Homo sapiens: one gene and its partner. The protein of the gene in region 2 interacts with the protein of the main gene of each other region in a pairwise test. Each region holds a gene or a part of one and is shown on either strand. Other genes may lie near its edges.

What was found. Proteins that work in one complex are often made in the same cells at the same time.
Region 1: the proteins of CLN6 (region 2) and TEX264 interact in binary tests that used the Homo sapiens proteins (3 or more experiments, as listed by UniProt).

The regions. Positions count from the first base shown.
Region 1 is NC_000003.12:51,681,240-51,688,279, forward strand, and holds part of TEX264 (testis-expressed protein 264), read left to right. Parts: intron 1-102; exon of another isoform or gene 103-146; coding exon of another isoform or gene 147-191; intron 192-3,173; coding exon 3,174-3,395; intron 3,396-3,575; coding exon of another isoform or gene 3,576-3,635; exon of another isoform or gene 3,636-7,040. UniProt on the Homo sapiens protein: Major reticulophagy (also called ER-phagy) receptor that acts independently of other candidate reticulophagy receptors to remodel subdomains of the endoplasmic reticulum into autophagosomes upon nutrient stress, which then fuse with lysosomes for endoplasmic reticulum turnover.
Region 2 is NC_000015.10:68,206,452-68,212,728, reverse strand, and holds the end of CLN6 (ceroid-lipofuscinosis neuronal protein 6), read left to right. Parts: intron 1-865; coding exon 866-1,054; intron 1,055-1,410; coding exon 1,411-1,466; intron 1,467-2,969; coding exon 2,970-3,092; intron 3,093-4,318; coding exon 4,319-4,589; 3' UTR 4,590-5,737; downstream 5,738-6,277.

The DNA.
Region 1 (7,040 bases), on a different chromosome or scaffold from region 2:
TCCAGGTGGAGGGAGAGGAAGTTTGTTATGGTGCAGGGCTTGCTTGTGTGTGCATGCATGTACTGTCACTGAGCATGCCTCAAGAACTTTCTGTGTGCGCAGGATCCTGGACCTTTTTGCCTAGAGGCCTGGAGTGATGGAGAGAGATGGGGAGGCCATCAGTTACAGTGCAGCACAACACCTGCTCCCTGGTGGGTACTTGGGATCAGAGAGGAGGGGCTGCTTGGTGGAGAGCAACAGAAGGCTTTGAAGGGGAAAGTTGAGCTGAGTCTTGCAGGATGGGCAGGAGTTTCCCAGTCAGAAGGGACTCTGGAATAGGGTGAAGAAGGACATTTCAGGCAGAGGAAGTAGCTTACGCAAAGGCAGGAAGCATGGGAGGATGTGGCATGTTTGGGGAGCTGCAAATAGTTTCATGTGGGTGTGTGTGGGGGTGTGGCGGGTGAGGAGGCTGGCAAGGCGGGCTGGGCCAGAGCCTGGATCTGTCCCTCCCTCTGCCATGCAGACACTCAGTTGGTGCCTGCCCACCTGGGCTCTGGCCCCTGCTGGGGCCTGAGGCTGCAGAAAGGGAGTGCAAGGTGAGTGTGTGGGCAAATTCATGCAGTATTATGTGGGCCACTCCAAAAGAGCCTTGCCTATTGGCTTGTGAATTTAGTTTCATCCTAGAGGTAAATTGGGAGCCATTGAGAGGTTCTGAGCAAGATGACCACATGTGTTCTGGTGTCTTTTGGCTACTGAAGAGGATGTTGAGCTGGGAGTCCCATAAGGCCTGCTGAAGCGTTCCCAGGAAAGACCCTGGAACTCAAACCCAGGCAAGCCAGCTGTAGAAAGGAAGAGAATAAGTGACCTTTCATCCGTTTCTCCATATGACTTATGTAGATGTTTCTTTTGCACAGCACAGGTTGGTAGGGTCAGGGACATGAAGATAGGCTTTGTGGCAGGCAGTGTCTCTTGGCTTGTCAGCAGGAGGCCTGCCAGATAACTTCCTGCCTATCTGGTCATTCTCAAGTCTTGGCGTGTGAGTAGGGCAGTTCCACCATCTAGAGACAAGAGATGGTATTGCAGTGATCTCCTGTGCCTCTGGGTGGGGTGGGAGGAGCTTCAGGCCAAAAGAAGTGACTGTGTGCAAGGTAGACTTATGGAGGGCAAGAAAGTTTACAGCAAAATACTGGGGGAGAAGAGAGTGCCACTGAGCCACGCTGAAAGGCTCTTCAAGAGGGTATTTGAACCGGAAGGACAGGCAGGGAGGAGCTGCATATTCAGAGGTTTGGGTGGTCGGGCATTCTAGGCCATGGACAGTTGTTTGGACTGTGTCATAGCTACTAATAACCACAATTATGGGGCATTTGCTGAATGCTGGACCCAGGCTAAGCTCTCGTGAAGTTTCTTGTTTAATATGGCAGTTCTGTAAGTAGATATTGAGGAACTGGGGCTCCCAGAACCCAAGGGACTTGTCTAGAATCACACGACTCAGATTCGCACCGTGGCCTGCCTCTCTCAAGCTGTGTTTCTGACCACTACACCCGGTTGCCTGCTACTAAAGCTCTGAGCCAGGTTTGGATGCCGTAGGCTTCAAGGGGGCTGCAAGGGGACCAGAGCTGCAGACAGTTGAGGGTGACCGTTAGGGTCTGCTTAGAAGTGAGAGCCTGGAATAGGTGCCCAAGTCCCAGGCAAACTGTGACTAAAAGGAAGGCCTGGGTTGGCCTGAGTAGAGGAGGCCATTCAGGGCTGAGAAACCCCCAGGGGATTTCAGAGAGGGCTTGGAAAGGGCTGTAATGGGAGGGAGAGGTGAGAACAGGTAATAATGACTTCACAGTGCTGGGAAGGAGGGCTGGGGAGAGGAGTAAGTGGAGGTAGAGGGAGAAGCCTGTTTAAACTTAGGGGTCATCCCTGTGAAGGTGAACTGCTGGCAAAAAAAATTTTTTTGCGGTGGGTAGGGAGAAAGGAGCCTTTAGAGTTGAGCAAAACCCAGGATTGAGGGTACAAGGTCTGTGCTGAATCTCTTGGATTCAAGATCATATGTCTCTGAGGGCCCAGTCTGAAGGCTGGTACAGACTTAGGCACCTGGAAAGCTGACGTGGGAAACAGGTAGCAGTAGGTGAGACAAAGTGAGGCCTCTTGATGCCAGGAGGAGAAATGAGTACTGGGCCTTGCAGCATTCATTCAGTCCTAGGAAGTGTTGGAGGCTCACATAGGAGCCTTACATGGCTGAGGTTTCTGGGAGCCAGAGGAGGGAAATTAGGTAGGGAGGCAAGCAGAGTGGGAAGTGCAGGCACTAGCAACCTACAGAGATTTGGAGGGGAACCAGTGGTCTTGGCTTTTAGCCAGGAAGGGACTTAGGAAGTGGGATAGGTCCCTGGATGGGCCATGGGTTGCAGAAGAAGTCTAGAGGCTCTGGTGATGGTAGCTGGCCCTGCCAGAGGGGTGGGGAGGATGATCTCTTCACAGAATTTCACCAGCAACCCAGATGTCAGTGATCCCAATCCTATGTCCTGACAGGTGCTTCCTGCAGCCCCTCCTCAGCCACTTGCCAGGTCCTGACCCTGCAAGCATGTGTGTAAACACACACACACGTGTTCTTGCTTTCCTAGGGCATGACCGTGGAGGGCTCTGAGCTCTTTATTACCACTCCTCAGTTTTGCTCCCTTGCCTGCCATAATTTCTCTGCCTGTAAAGCCTGCTCTTCTCCAGGAGATAGGAGGGAAATTAGCTAATAGGATTTTGCTGGACCCAGGCTGCAGGATCAGCCACTGTACAGTTCTGCTGGTGGCCCTGGGGCGTGGGGGCTGACAGAGGGTCTTATGGTGGGGTGGAAGGGCCCCCTCAGTGGAGCCATGTGGAGGGTGATGGTTCAGAGGTCCTCTCCGCCCTTCCCTCTCCTGGCCTCCAGAAGGGCAGAGACCAAGTCTAACCCCTCACTATGATCCCTGGGTTTCCACAGGGCATGGCATGTTTGTTGAAGGAATAGATGAGAGTCCTGTGGTACGATGCCACAGGCAGGGGCCATAGGTGGGTTCCAGTAAGAAAATAGCTAGCTGTGTCCTGGTATCTGGGGCTGCATGGCTTGTCAGAGCTGCTGGTTCTTTTAGGCCTGATCTGGCACAGTCCCAGGAGGAAGGAGGTCTGAGGGCCTCCTTCCTTTGGCCAACTCTCACACCCATGCTTTGCTTCCCCAGGTGCCCCCTGATAAGTGCCGATGTGCCGTGGGCAGCATCCTGAGTGAAGGTGAGGAATCGCCCTCCCCTGAGCTCATCGACCTCTACCAGAAATTTGGCTTCAAGGTGTTCTCCTTCCCGGCACCCAGCCATGTGGTGACAGCCACCTTCCCCTACACCACCATTCTGTCCATCTGGCTGGCTACCCGCCGTGTCCATCCTGCCTTGGACACCTACATCAAGGTGAGGCACAGGCCTGGGGTGTGTGTGTTGGGGACAGCCAGGCCCCTTGGGTGGAGCTGAGGAGGACTGCCTAGAATGGGAGGAAGAAGTGGTTTTGGGAGAGCAGCACCCTGGGGCCCTCATGGAACAGGTACCTGTGGAGCTAGGAAGATGGGCAGAGGTTGTTGGCATCTCTTTCAGATGCCCAAGATCTTTTGGAAGCCGGAGCATATCCCAAGAGCATGGAGAACTTGTTCATAAATCTGATCTGGTTAGTTTGGCTCTGGCTTTGACCAAAGACATCCATAGTGCTTATCCCACACTCCTGGCTCAGATGAATGGACAGGCCACTTTATTCTCATCCTGCTGGAGGCCTGCAAAGCAAGGACCTGAGGCTCCCAGTGTCTGGGCAGGCCCCAGGTAATCATGTATTGCCCGTGGCCCTGCCTGTGCATGGGCTTATACATCTGCTCCCAGAGGCCAGGGCTGGGACAGCAGTGGCAGGCTCTGTTTCCTTTACTTCCTGACTTGGTTACTGGCAATGCTGGCAGCCCAACCTTCCTGGAGGAAGGAGAGCCAGTCACCTGGTCATCTGACGGGTTTCTGTGTCTACAGAAATTTTTTTAAAACTTGCCCTGTTACACATCCCTCCTCCCCTAAACGTTTTGTAAACTTGGTTGCTAGGGAAATGACCCCAGTTTGGGCTTGGACGTGATTGTTCATTCATTTAACTTGTATTTATAGTCTGTGTGCCAGGTGCTATAATGGGCACAATGTGAATGAAACGTTGGTGCATGAAACAGCCATTCACAGTGAGGTGGTGAAGATAGGTAATAAATATCAGACAAAAATAGGACGTGTGCTAGAGAAGGAGAGGGTGAGAAAAGTCAGGGAACCAACTTGGACAGAATGGTCAGGGACAGCCTCTCAGAGGAGATAACCTCAAGGCAGAGTCCTAGAAGAGCCTTTAGAGAGGAGATAAGAACTTCTAGTCAGAGCTTTGGTCTAAATGCAGCAGGAAGTCACTGCAGTGTTCCAACCAGGAAAATAACACAGTTGGAGCCACGTCTGTACAAGATGAGCTGTCCCATCTCTGGGCAGGGTGGGACTGGACCACAGATCTGGGACCAGGTGGAGATGCTTAGGCCTGGGGCTAAGGAATTAGCCTAGGAGGCTGTCATGAATCCCATTGTGAGTGGTGGCAGCTTGGGCAGGCCCAGCGGCTATAGAGCTGTGGACAAGGATGGAGATTTACAATCACTTTTGGGATAGAACTGATAGACTTTGGGTGGATTCACTGTTGTGGAAGGAGAGGCAGTGAGGGAGTCACAGAGGGCTCTGCTCCCCTCTGGCCTGGGCAGGTGGGCAAGTATGTAGTGATGCTTTCACTGACATGTGGGGAACTGAGGGAGGCCCTGGTTTTGGGGGGAAGGTAGCTATTTGGGCTATGTCAGGGGAGCTGCCTGAGATACATCTAAGTTGGGGGGTGTGGAGTCAGCAATGGTATGTGTGGCCTGGAGTTGAGGAAAGGCTGGGCTGGTGGATATATTTGGGGACATCAGCCTGTTGGCAGTATTTGACCTGGGAGGCTGCCCTGTGCCTCCCTGCCTCTGTGGGACCAGGTAGGCAGTGGACAGCCTGTGGCAGCAAAGGCTGCGCAGAGGGCGTGGCCAGTGTGGCAGGGGTCAGGGAACAGGACGAGAGTCAGTGGGAGTGAGAGCCTGGTACACTTGGAGGATCCTTGCAACTTTGTTCACCAAAGCAGCTTGGGGAAAGGGACACAGCGTTGATGATGGAAATGGGAGTTCAGATGTCCCTGGAGTCTGGTGTTGGGGCTGAGGAATGAATAAATGAGGCCCTGGGTCACCAGCTGTGTCCTTGGCGGTCAAAGACAGGTTTGAAGAATCAGGAGTGAGAAGACCTGGAAAGGGGAGGGCTGTCACGGTGATAAGGCAAGGGCACAGGGAGAATAGAGGGGAGTTTCCTTTGTGAGCTGGAGGGTGGTGGCCAAAAGGGGTGTGGGGCAGGATGTGCTTGCCTGGCTGCGGTTGGACTGGAGGTGGGGGCGGGCTGGCTGGTGGTGTGGGCAGGAAGGAAGATACCAGTGCCCTAGGCCTGCTTAGTGTGCTGCCTCTGGGGAGTCCCGCCCCATTTCATTCAAGGAAGGCCTCTCCAGTCCTGTCGGTGCCATCCTCAACCTCATGGGCCCATCTGGAGGGGCACCCCTGGGAAAGAGACTTCTTGGGTTCCAGACCTCAGAACAGGACATGTGGCATGTGGTGTGGTGGTGAGCAACTCAGCCACCAAAGCCTTTTCCTGGCTTCAGGGGTTTATTTTTAGACACCTTTGTCCAAATTTCCCGGCCCCTGACAGCTTCACAAGTTGCCTGGTTTTGACGTCACCTCTTTGATGAAAGCCCTTCCTCCTTCCTCCCCGCTCCCATGGGAGCCTGTCAGCTGTGCTCCTGGAGTGGGGGTTGAGACAAGGAAGCCAGTGATATGGGGGAGAGCAAGGGGCTTCTCCCAGAGACAGGTGTGAGGCATGCTTGTGTGGGCTTGGCCATCAGCGGGGAGAGTAAGATAGAGGCCGGCTGCCCACAGAAGAGGCATGGCCGAAGGTCCTGGGCTTGTTTTGGCAGCAGGGTGTGGGGGTTGCCTCTGCCCCTGTGTTTAGCCTGACCTTGCGTCTTGGGGAACAAAGCCAGGGGAGAGATGAGGAAGGGGCTAGCTCTGTTTGCTGGTCACAGCCTGCAGTGGACAGGGGTGGCCCTGTGCCTCTCTCAGCCCAGGAGACAGCAAGGAGAGAGTATAAGGCTCCCTTCCATCCCTGCCTTCATCTCCCCTGCCCTGAGGTCAGAGAAAGGAGATTACTAATGAGACTAGTTGCGTCTCACTCTTCTAGCACCGACAGCTTTTAACTGTGTGTGCGTGCGCGTGTGTACACCCTTCTTTTTCTCTCTGGATCTGGGACTGCTGTGAAGGCTCTTCAAATGGAATGACAGCAGCCGTCAGCTTTCTGCTTTGGCAGGGGTGAGAGAGGCCAGGAGCCCTGCTGCCAGGAGTTGCGGGGGGAGGACTTGGCAGGCTCACCAGCCTCTCCAGAGGCTAGGTGAGGGGCAGGGGTGAATGGATCTTAGCTTCGGGTTTGGGAGGTGGAGAGCAGCTGCTGTCCCGGGAGTTGCAGATGTGCCTGAGCCTGGAACAGGATTGGTCTCATGGGACAGAGGGACCTGAAGTTCACGGCGAGAGGCCCAAGGAGAAGCACTTGTCAGGACTCTCGGGATTCTGGAAGGGATGGCTGATCTCAGCTTTCCTGGTTTGCATGGCAGCCTCTGGCTCTCTGGCTAGCCTTCCCCAGCTTGGCAGCCTGGCAAACTGCTATAGATGCTGGAACTCTGCCTTTCTCCATATAAACTGCTAAGGGCCCCCAGGCTGAACACTCATTCCCCTGGAATCCATGCGTACTGTGTGACCATCACTCCATATGGAAGATGCCTCAGCTTTGTCAGGCTGCTCCGCTGGAGTCCAAGGAGGTGGCCTCTAGTACAGGAGGAGACCACTCCCCAAGTCCCAGGAAAGGGGTATCTTCTGGAAGCTGCAGGATGGAACAGAGCTTGCTTGAAATTGCAAACCTGCAGAGGGGAGATGGGGCCCAGATGTGAGCCCA
Region 2 (6,277 bases):
GACCAGCCTGGGCAACATAGTAAGACCCTATCTCTACAAAAAATTTAAAAATTAGCTGGGCATAATGGTGCACACCTGTAGTTCCAGCTACTCTGGGGGCTGAGGTGGGAGGATCTCTTGAGCCACTATACTCCAGCCTGAGTGACAGAGTGAGACCCTGTCTCAAAGAAAAATGAAAGAAATGAATTTCATGTTTAGACTTGCATATGCATTCCCAAGATATCTCATTGTGTATATGCAAATATTCCAAAATCTGAAATTTGAAACATTTCAGATAAGGGATGCTCAGCCTGTATCACCATTTACTATCACCATCATTTTGTATTGAAGAAAGATACTTCAAATCTCCAGAAGTAGGAGGGGTATAATCCCAGAACTCCGGTGTGTTTTCAGTTAAACAGTGGCATTTCAGAAGCACCTGCCCCCATCCCTGACATTTTCTTCATGTTTGCTGGGACCACTCAGAAATCAGAAGGTGCCTTCAGCAGGCTGGGCCAGCCACCCAGGGACACAGCCAGGGACAGTGGGAGGGCTGGGCCTGAGCCTGGACTCCTGCACTGAAGGCTGGGCTGTCCCCTCCAGCCTACAGCTCATGTGTGACTTTGGGAAAGGAGTTGGGCCCTCTGGTCTTTTTGCTCCCTGGGTAAAGTCAGCGGGGGGTGCTGCTCCACATTCCCTCCGGGGTTCATAGGGGTCACGGGAGGATCTGGAGGCTGGGCTGGCCTGCTAAAGGGACCAGCCACTTTTTGGAGTGACATTCCAGCTGGAAGCGTCCATCCCACCCCAGGTGTGAGGGGGGAAGCAGAGGGTGTCACATACTGTGACAGAGGTGGGGTCATGCTGCCAACCCCACTCTGAACCCCAGCTCATCGAGCGGTCCCCCCGCACCCTGCCACGCTCCATCACGTACGTGAGCATCATCATCTTCATCATGGGTGCCAGCATCCACCTGGTGGGTGACTCTGTCAACCACCGCCTGCTCTTCAGTGGCTACCAGCACCACCTGTCTGTCCGTGAGAACCCCATCATCAAGAATCTCAAGCCGGAGACGCTGGTGAGGCCACCTCCTGCTCCCTGCCTGTAAGCCCTAGGAGCACAGTCTGTCCTGGGAGGCTGAAGAAATGGCCCCCACCCCTCGCCGCACCTGTCCTTTCACCAAAGGCATTCTGCTAGGTGAGGGCACTGTCGCCTGCCCCAAGCTAGGATGCTCAAGTGTTCTTAGGAAGTGGTGCACAGACTGCCTCCCACCTGGGCCCCTGTAACAGAAGGCGAGGCCCCGGGTAGGGAATAAGGCAGTGGGGGAGGCCTGGGACTGGGAGAAGGGTGGTCAGAGGGGATGCTTGGGGCCCCAGCACCTCCCTGGACTGACATCGACATCCCCCGACTCTGCCCTGCCCGTTCCTCCCTCAGATCGACTCCTTTGAGCTGCTCTACTATTATGATGAGTACCTGGGTCACTGCATGTGGTGAGTGATGGGCCCATCTGTCTATCCCAGGGGCCCCAACTACCGGCTAGCCCTGTCACTGGCTCAGGGACACACTGAGCAAGGCTGTCTGGGCTGCGGGTCTCCATGTGTTGAGTCTCATCCCCTGTAAAGGCACTGTGAGCTCAACCTCCAGTGAAGTTGTCCCCGAGGTTGCCCGGGAGACCCAGCTGCTGTCCCAGGCTCCAGGCCCCGGCTTCCAGCCAGCATCCCCCCAGCATCGCCACCCCCGCCCAGCCCTCAGTGCCCGCTGTGGCCAGCAGAGGGCAGCGAGTGGCTTTGGTCCTTCCTCGCCAAGCCTGAGCCCTGAGGGTGGGGGAGGAGGACGCGTCCCTGATAAACAACCCCCAGATGGTGATGGCAGGGGGTGGGGGCACAGCCAGGGACCCCCACCCGTGTCGGGCCTGCTCTTTGGGAGTGGAGGAAGCTGCGGGGAGCCAGCTGGATCAGGCTGGGGAGGGGCGTGCTGTTTGCGCTCCCCCCTCTTCAGAACTCCCAGAGGGGCACCTTTTCCTACCTACCCCGTCCCTCAGTCGGGGGAGACCTCAGAAATGTGGTCTCAGCCTCAGGAGATCCCGGGCCCAGGCTGGGAGGCTTCATCTGTTCCACCCTCCCATCTTACCCAGGAGAAACTGAGGCCAGAGGGAGGAGGGCTCCGAAGGCTGCAGCTGGGAGGTGAGGGCCAGCCCTGGACCCGGCTCACTCCTGAGTTGGTGCTCACAGCACACGCACCCTGCACGGGCATTTCCAGGGTGTTTCGGGCCCTGCGATGTCAATCCTCCTGGCTCAGCTGGTCCAGGGTCCCTGGACAGGCCTCCTGCCATCTTTCCCTGGCCTTTGCCAGAGCCTCTTCCCACAGAAGGTTGGGGAAGGGTGGAGGGGCTAGGAACAGAGAGCTGGAGCCCCAGCAGGAAGGGGGTGTGGGTGAGAAGAGGCAGGCGGGTATACTGGTGAAAGCACAGGTGGGAGAAAGGGAGCCGGTGTGTGGAGAGGGGAGAGGGTAGTATTTTGGGGTGAGGTGTCTGAGGTGGGGGTGGGGCTGTGTGCTGAGAGTGGGTGCAGTGCTTCACCAAGAGGCCCCTGCAGGTGCTGTTCTCTTTTTTAACATGTGGACCTCCATCCTCAGCCCGGGAGGTGCCTCTGTCTCCAGGCTAGTGTGGTGCTGGGCTGCTGGTGTCTGCGGTGCATGAGACAGACAACCCCCCAGACACCCCTTACCCCCACGGAGTGAGTGAGGTGCCCTGGGCGGTGTGGATGCCTCTGGGCCTCTGACTCACACGTGCGTTGCCTTCCTGTTTCTGTTTCTGTCCCACCTTTGACGCCCAGCACAGGCAAGGTTGGGTGGAGAGGAGCGCCTCTCACCCAGGCTAGGCGTTTTGTAAACTGTGACGTGGCACTCCATGAGACCCCATGGGAGTGGTTGCAGAGGTTGTGGGGAAGAGGGCCGCTGAGCAGGCCTCTAAGACACTGGCCTTCCTGTCACAGGTACATCCCCTTCTTCCTCATCCTCTTCATGTACTTCAGCGGCTGCTTTACTGCCTCTAAAGCTGAGAGCTTGATTCCAGGGCCTGCCCTGCTCCTGGTGGCACCCAGTGGCCTGTACTACTGGTGAGTGGACATCAGCATGGGGGCAGAGGCAGGGGCACTGAGAGAGCCACGGCAGCAAAATTCTGCACTTGCCAATGGACCTGCTGTGTGGCCCCAGGGAGACTGGCCCTCTTTGGGCCCGTGCTTCTTCTTGTGTCTAGTGGGGACTGTGACAATGCCCTGTGGTGGCCTCTTTGTTTCCATGAAGCCCAGGCCTGGGTGTGGCAGGGAGGTGGGAGGAGAGGGCGAGGTTGCACAGTCTGTCTCCATCCTCAAGCCCCTCTCGCTCTGTGCCCCATCTCAAGAACCCCAGTGTTGCCCTGGGGCCGGTACAATCCACCTCCGACACCAAGCCCTGTAGTGGGCTGCGGTTTCCACCTCTGTGAAGTGGGGATGATGGTACCTGCCTGTCTGCCTCTCAGATGATGAGGATGCTGAGGACAGAGAGGGGCTTTGTCAAATGTAAAGCACTATGGCGAGGCCAGACTGGGGGGTTTCATGGCGTAGGGGCTTCTGGCCTTGGGTCTTTGTTCCCTCTGGCTCTCTCTTCTTCCCATTGCAGAGGACTTAGGCCTCAGCCAGTCTCCTAGCCCTCGTCTGTCACTTCTGCCCTGGAGACAGGTCACCCTGGGATTGTGGGTATCATGGGAAGGACAGGGTCGGGGCAGGACTGGACCCTTCTCTGATGGGAGGCCTCCCTCAAAATGAAAAGGGCCTCCTTTCCTGGGCCAGCTCTAGATCCTCTCCCCGGCCTGTCCCCTATGTGGCTGAGATGGCCCACTGGGGCTCATCTGTATGCTCTCTGGGGATTAAAAAGAATGGGTGGCAGCTACAGTGAGCGGGAAAGACGTTAGGGGAGCGCTTCCTGCTGGTTCTTACCCCGGCATCCTGCCGCGGGGGTGGCTGCCGTCGTAATGGCAATTGTTTGTTGCTTTCTCCTCTAGTCAGTTTTTGTTGTGTGGAAGTATAAACTTAATGTGACCAGAGAAGCCAGAAATATACATTTGTAGGTATTCTGTTATTTAAATATTGGCAACAAACTCAACATTTAAAAAACAGTAACTATACCAGCTAAATCAATATGCTGCCCATGGGCTGTGGCTTAGAGCGGCATAGTTCTCTGAGCCCTGGCACCAGAGGACTCTTCTGCCTGCCTGGAGGGCAGCCTGGCTCTCGCACACAGGAAGGGATGCCAGGCAGGACGGGGTTGCCACGGCAGCTGCCTCACTCACCCCTGGCCTTTCCAGGTACCTGGTCACCGAGGGCCAGATCTTCATCCTCTTCATCTTCACCTTCTTCGCCATGCTGGCCCTCGTCCTGCACCAGAAGCGCAAGCGCCTCTTCCTGGACAGCAACGGCCTCTTCCTCTTCTCCTCCTTCGCACTGACCCTCTTGCTTGTGGCGCTCTGGGTCGCCTGGCTGTGGAATGACCCTGTTCTCAGGAAGAAGTACCCGGGTGTCATCTACGTCCCTGAGCCCTGGGCTTTCTACACCCTTCACGTCAGCAGTCGGCACTGAGTCCCTGGCACCAGGCTCTGGCGCTCTGCTGGGTGGGAGGGTGGGCCATGGAGGGCATCTGAATACAGGAGTAGGGGGGGTGTGGGTGTGTAACCAGAGACCGAGAGCATGAGTGGGGTGTGCCTCGTGTGCGTGGATTCGTGTGTGTGTGTGTGTGTGTCTTGTATATGTGTGCGCAGAGTGCATCATTTTCAGACTCTACTATTTCCGTCAAGTTTCTGTTTGATTTGGATCATCTCAGGATCGGATTCTGTTTTAGAGTGTTTCTGGGCCAGGATCCGGGCCCCTGCCCTCCTCTGCACCTGACCACACTCCCTACTCAGGGCTAGTCTGTTCTTCCCGGACATCTTCTGGTAGCCGTGCAGGAGAGGGCTGGGTGGGGCAGAGGCCAGGAGGGGACCTGGTGTGTCACCTGCCCACCACCTGGCTCATCCCTCAGGCCCACCCTGACCCTACATTACATAGGTTACGTCAGCCTACTGTGGCTGTTGAGCAAAGCATTTCTCCTTTCTGGGCCTCATTTGCACTAGATGGGCCTGTGGTCCCAAAGTAGGTCAGTAGGTTGGGGTTGCTGACACCCCTTGGGTGCAGCTTTGGGACAGATGAGTGGCTCTGTCCTGTCACTGCCCTCTCCCTGCCTGGGGGCTATGTGCACTCCAGACCCCTGCCCAGGCTCAGGCCCATGAGGTATGGAGACACCCTGGCCCCCAGGAGCTGGAGGCACCGCCCACTCCCCTGGCATTCCAGCTTTGCAGGTGACCCTCCTCTACCCAAAGCTCTGTCCCCCTGCTCCCACTCCAGAAGAACTGCGGCACGCGCTTCGGGCAGCCTAGCCACAGGCTTTGAGCGCCTGCATTCCTGGGGGCTGGAGGGTGGGGTGCCAAAGGCCCTGAGCAAAAGCCAGAGCTCCTCTCATCAAAGCCTTTACAAGGTGCTGGGCCCAGAGGCTTTGCCTTGACAGAGTGGCCCAGGGTTTCAAGGGAGGAGGAACCTCCCCCTACCTAGGACCCTTCCTGTGGGGGGTCTACAGAGTCAGGGACAGAAGGGAAGGGACCCACAGGAAGTCACAGTGGTGCCCAGGGATGTGTCAGCCCCCAGCCACGGGGACGCGGGATTCAAGAATGAAGTAAATACAGTCACAGCCCCAAGTGGTGTTAGAGGTGTTTTTTGTCTTTTCTCCCTTTCGTGCTGAGGTGTAGCACACACGGTGCGCCCTACAGCATGGTGAGTTGCTGTATCGTGAACCCTCACGCAGCCATTGCCCCACGCTGGTGTTTTCCATCTGTGCGTCACCCCCGGAGACACCTACACACATAAGGAGGGAGTTGGCCGGGGCACCCCAGCACACACTGGCCTAACTCCAAGGAGGCACCTCATCTCTTCTGGAGCCCCTTCCCACAGGCAAGGGGATTCAGAGGGAGCATGTTGGCCTGGCCGCCTTCAGGCTTCCAGAGTCCCAAGTGACTTTCCTTGATGTCCTTCTCTCCATCCTCTGCACAGAGGCAGCCTTCCCTCCTCTTATCCCTGCCATGGGGTTTGGGAGGGGGAGCCTCAAACTCTGACAGGGAGGAGTCGGAGTCCCCAGCTAAAATTCTCTGGGTCTAGAAACAGGTGTAAAGCGATTCTGGGGATGTGATTTGGGAGAAAAGCACACTTTCCACACAGAGGCGGTCAGGAAAGGAGCGGGG